Linked DNA regions of Homo sapiens. The protein of the gene in region 1 purifies or fractionates together with the protein of each later gene. This does not show direct contact. Each region holds a gene or a part of one and is shown on either strand. Other genes may lie near its edges.

The links.
Region 2: the proteins of RAB9A (region 1) and CHM purify together in Homo sapiens (affinity purification with mass spectrometry; 2 studies listed by BioGRID and IntAct, with this or other methods). This does not show direct contact.

The regions. Positions count from the first base shown.
Region 1 is NC_000023.11:13,708,566-13,711,004, forward strand, and holds the end of RAB9A (ras-related protein Rab-9A), read left to right. Parts: intron 1-155; 5' UTR 156-181; coding exon 182-787; 3' UTR 788-1,939; downstream 1,940-2,439. UniProt on the Homo sapiens protein: The small GTPases Rab are key regulators of intracellular membrane trafficking, from the formation of transport vesicles to their fusion with membranes.
Region 2 is NC_000023.11:85,957,059-85,960,558, forward strand, and holds part of CHM (rab proteins geranylgeranyltransferase component A 1), read right to left. Parts: intron 1,920-3,500; coding exon 1,803-1,919; intron 918-1,802; coding exon 797-917; intron 1-796. UniProt on the Homo sapiens protein: Substrate-binding subunit of the Rab geranylgeranyltransferase (GGTase) complex.

The DNA.
Region 1 (2,439 bases):
CTGCACATGGCTAAGTGCTCAGTAAACAACAAGTCTTATTATTAGGTATTCCCTGGGGCCATATGTTTTATTTCAGCTAAATGCTGATATTCGTAGAATCATGTAGAAGAATGTGTAGGTATAAAGGAATGTAATGGTGCCTTTTTATTTTACAGGGTTCTTGAAGCTTTTGAGATTAACAATGGCAGGAAAATCATCACTTTTTAAAGTAATTCTCCTTGGAGATGGTGGAGTTGGGAAGAGTTCACTTATGAACAGATATGTAACTAATAAGTTTGATACCCAGCTCTTCCATACAATAGGTGTGGAATTTTTAAATAAAGATTTGGAAGTGGATGGACATTTTGTTACCATGCAGATTTGGGACACGGCAGGTCAGGAGCGATTCCGAAGCCTGAGGACACCATTTTACAGAGGTTCTGACTGCTGCCTGCTTACTTTTAGTGTCGATGATTCACAAAGCTTCCAGAACTTAAGTAACTGGAAGAAAGAATTCATATATTATGCAGATGTGAAAGAGCCTGAGAGCTTTCCTTTTGTGATTCTGGGTAACAAGATTGACATAAGCGAACGGCAGGTGTCTACAGAAGAAGCCCAAGCTTGGTGCAGGGACAACGGCGACTATCCTTATTTTGAAACAAGTGCAAAAGATGCCACAAATGTGGCAGCAGCCTTTGAGGAAGCGGTTCGAAGAGTTCTTGCTACCGAGGATAGGTCAGATCATTTGATTCAGACAGACACAGTCAATCTTCACCGAAAGCCCAAGCCTAGCTCATCTTGCTGTTGATTGTTAGATTGTTGATGCATTCTAACCAACTCACACATATACACAAAATCAACATGGGGATGGAGAAGAGAATTAGCGTTTGCAGCAGTGTATCATCTACTAATAAAATTAAACTAATGTTGCTGCTTCATTAGTTGGTGGGAGAAGGGACACATCCACTCTTGGAGGAATATATTTACTCAATAATGGCACCTTACATTTATAAATTGTAACAGTTGTCTAATAACGTTTCTTTAATTTAAATATGTAAGTTGCAGAGCTAATAAATGAAATGACCAAGACTTTAATTATAATAAAAATAAGAAACTTGACTATTCTAGAAGTTATACTTGGATTTTTTCCTGGGAAAATGGAGAACTACTTTTTATATGTGTATGTTTTTATGCAATTAGCATTGTATTCTTGGTTCAGGGAAATACTTTCCTAAAGCAATAATGTTAGATATTAAAGATTAAAATCTAATGTATTTGCAATGCATTGTTAATTTACTTCTTCATTCTCTTCAAAATGATTTAACCATTCCTGTTTTCATTCTACATACTAGAATTACTCTCACTAGTAATTACTCATCATTTGTGTGCCATTCATGCACCCCCACCCCCATAAATCATGTTCCACAGTCTCAGGCGGAGGGTGGGCCCCCAGTGGTACAAGAGTTGCTTCATACAGTCTGTAATACATCCAGCTAAATTCAAGTTGTCTATGAATGGAAAGCCTTTCCATAGATAGAGTTCAGTTTTAAGAAAAAGGCTAACTACTGAACTTGGAGAACAGACAAATGTGCATTTGATAACTGATGTAATAATTACAATGTACTGTGTGGAAGATACAAAATTACAATTCGATTAATGGACTAAATATTTTTGTTACTTTCTTGACCCTTGGGGAAAGTTTCTTAATTGAAGTTAAAACATTCCTTTATAACACAAGACACAAGCTGACTTTATCACTCTCAGAAGAAATACTAAGAAGGATTGTACTTTGTGAGAGGGTAAACGAAGACATCTTTATTCGGCAATGTATTTACTTAGTGTCTTCTCTATTACTGAACATTTAGTGATTTGCTCTCAAGGAGATTTTTTGTTAGAAAAAGACTTGTTGCAGTGATCAGACTTGATAAAGCAAATTGTGGTCTTTTGTGGATGAAGTTCATATGCTGTGTGGTTGGTGACTATCTGATTCTATGGAGGCTAACCAAAGCCTAGACTGAGTGTGGATGAGACCCTCAACTGGGGAGTGATGGGGATATCAAAGGACATGCTGGGTGAGAGGAGCTGACTGTCATGTAGGGAGTGAACCACTGCCCCCAGCAGAGATACAGTTCGGTTTTAAGAAAAAAGGCAAGGCCAGGCGCGGTGGCTCACGCCTGCAATCCCAACACTTTTGGAGGTCAAGAGGTCGACACCATCCTTGACAACATGGTGAACCCGGTCTCTACTAAAAATACAAAAATTAGTTGGGCATCGTGCCTGTAGTCCCAGCTTCTCGGAAGGCTGACGCAGGAGAATCACTTGAACCCGGAAGGTGGAGGTTGCAGTGAGCCGAGATCACATCACTGCACTCCAGCCTGGTGACAGTGAGACTCCACCTCAAAAAAAAAAAAAAAAAAAAAAAAAGCAAACTACTGAACTGGAGAACAGACAAACCTGCAT
Region 2 (3,500 bases), about 72 Mb from region 1:
CACAGCCACTGTGGATAACAACATGACAGTACCTAGTAGACTTGAAGCTTTAAGAGCAAGGATTAGACTTTCATTATTTCACAGAGGAAAAAAAATATCGCTGCACTTCTCATTGTAACTTTATAAATAAATTATCAATAGTATATTCCAATTTTGGATAACATTTTCAGACCAATGGACTTAAAGTATATAGCTCTGACACTAAAATGGCATATTCAATTTTTAACAGACAATGAAGTAACTGGCCCCAGATCACATAATGAAATAGGTCAAAGCCAAGAATAGAAACCATGCCTTTTCTGAATCCAGTATTTTTCCCCATATACCATCTAGCCTTTTTTTTTCAAACGAAATAGTTCAAGATTCTATGCAAAAGCAATCCTGGAAAATGATAAAATATATAGTATTTTTACTTATGAGAAAAAATAATGGAATCATGAAAACAGATTATCATCTATGAAGAGCCAGTTGACAGTAGTATTTAAATAATAAGAATAAAAATTAAAATCTAGCATGCCACTTCAGCAATGAAAATATCTGCACTGTAGCCACATGGGGCTATGGGAGCCCTTGAAATACAGCTAATAAGACTGAGAAACTGAATTTATTTTATTTTATTTCACTTTAATTAATTTAAATTTAAATAGCTAAATGTTACTAATGGCTAACCTATTGATAGTGCAGAGTTAGAATGCATTTTAAAACAGTAATAAGTGGCTCACTAAATCAGAGCAAGCATATTAAAATAGTAAGAAATGTCAAATAATTGGAGAGCACTACTTAATGAAAAAAATACCTTTATATTCATCAGGATATTTCTCATATTCCATACAAAATGTAAGAAATTTCATTAGCATTCGCTTTTCTACCATAGTAAGTTGTTTGCTATTAAAGACATCTGCTCTGGAACACGGAACCTGAAAAATATTATGATTTTAAGTTAAGAAACTGCTTCCTAATGATATAACTATTCCAAATTACACTTTTTTCCCCTTTACATATAACAGGATTATCGTTTCCACTCTAGCCAGGCTTTTTCACATCACCGTCCATCAGTACTAATGGCATCTCTGCTAACTTCAGAGCTAATTGTGAGCTTTCTTACTTAATTCTGCCAAGTTACTCCCCATGCCATTAAAAGGCCAACGGCATGTCATCCTAACAGAGAAAAATTTAGCAGTGCTATCTAAAACAAACACTGTGGTTCTCCCTATGTACATGTTAGTACATTTTTATGCCTTTTCTCCAATTAATCTGCCTTTGTGAGTTGATTTTTCAGTGAAACTTCAGAGGCTTAAGAGGGAGTGTTTCCCTTGGCCCCTACAGTTTTGGTGCTGTGAGCAGGATAGCAAAGCTCTGCTCTTCTGGAAGCTGCAGTGAAGAACCCAGGATCTGATCAGCTGTCATAAGGGTAAGAATTTTTTCCCAACCAGGCTCCGGGCCTCCTCCTCTGTGTGGAATCTGATCAAGTGGACAGCAAAAATCACCGTTTCTTTCTTTTCCCTCTCCAAAATCTTGATTAATGGGAGAAAAGGATTTGTGTGACTAGTCTTGGGTATAGTAACTCTGGTGTGCTTTTTGGTTTTTTGTGTGCTGCTTGGTACCAACACCAAGCTGCAGAGTAAGCCATGAGAAAATTAGCACTAGAAATTTTAATTAAGCATTTACATTTGTAAATCACCACGGAGGACTGGAATTTACTGCTTTATGAGGAAAATAACAATCTTATTTGCTTATCTTTCCAAAACAAACCATAATAACTTAAGCTGATGCCCAGTTACAATTCTTGATCAGCACAGTACCTGTTCCACTCGTCCTTCTCGAAATGCAAGAATCCTGGTAATATTTTTAAACTCTGCATATCGACTAACATTAGATTTGATTAGAAGATCAATTAGTAATCCTCGAGAATACAGCAGCTGTACAAAGAAAATATTTTACAAGATAAAAGTTGAAATAGTAGAAAAATTGGAAAACAATAAAGATACATAATTTTGCTATATTTTTTATTATTTGTAGAAACAATCATACCTATAAATATTATAATACATAACACAATCTATTACAGGCTCAGAATTGATTAGCTGAAATTCAAAATTCAAAAAACTTTGCAATCCATAAGTTTTTACAAAACATGTTTAGCAGCAAAACCTGATCCATACTGATAAGGCACTCTGGCTTTGTTTGTCCAAATTAACATAAATATTCATATATTTCACTGCAGAAATAATGTGTTTAGTTAGAGTTCCTCCTCAGACCCTGCTAATAATTTAACCTAACATATAACATATCAGTATATGTACTTCATTACTTTCTAAAATATATTTTTTTAATCTTAATGATAGAATACACCAGGCCCTGAGGGTTTTGGATAAGAATCTATAGTCTTACACAAAGCCAGGTAGTTATAAGAAGAAATCAGTCCAGTGAACCTCCCTACCCCATCAAAAAAAGAAAAAAATATTTGTGATGCATTTACACTGAAAAAGTCAAATTATAAGGTACTTCTGTAATTCTAGAAGTCTGGGTTTATATGAGATATGTCTTTCTCAAAAAGTGAAGATGATGATTATTGCTGGCATGTATGGGAGAAATTGATTTAATCTTTCAACATCTCATAAGTAATATCAGAGAGATAAAATCAATAATGTAAACAGTATTATCTAGCATGTTAACCGTATGGTTAAATGCAACAGATTTGACTATTTCCTATATTAAGATACTCTTAATGCCTATAACTCAATAAATATTAAAAATGAATGTTACATCTATAATAAATAAATGGGAAAATTAGCTTTACTATACAAAGAAAAAGGAATCTCAAAAATCAATCTAAACCATTAGTCTGAGCAACTAATAAGTCAGTAAAGACTATCAGTAAATCAATACCATTCAAGTAAAATTTTATAAACTAATAGTTCAGCATTCTGCAAAACAAAATTGACATCACTTTTTTGAAGCTAATCTGATCATCCTGATTAAATATGGCACGTTACTTCATTACCCTCTTCCTAACACACTACATTACTGAAAGAGACCATGTTTTAAAGAATATATTGCCAATTCTTAACTCTATAATAATGATAAAAAATAGTTACTTCAAAAATCACTTGTTTAAAAAGATACACATTTGAGACTCAAGGATCCCTGCATAGCCATAATAATGTCACAAACATTAAGATATAAAATATGAAACTGCATTTTTATTTAATAAGATCCAATAAACCTTAAGGTTTAATGCCAGCTTGAAAAATAATGCATTTAAGATATCACAAGAACAAAAACAAATTTCAATTAAAATTATACTAGATTTTTGTTTCTGAAGCTCACAAATAATAAATGTGTACATATCAGAATCTAAGCCTCTTTTTCTTTTTTTTTTATTGAGACAGAGTCTCTCTGCTGCTCAGGCTGGAGTGCAGTGGCTCAATCTCAGCTCACTGCAACCTCTGTCTCCTAGGTTCAAGCGATTCTCCTGCCTCAGCCTCCCGAGTAGCTGG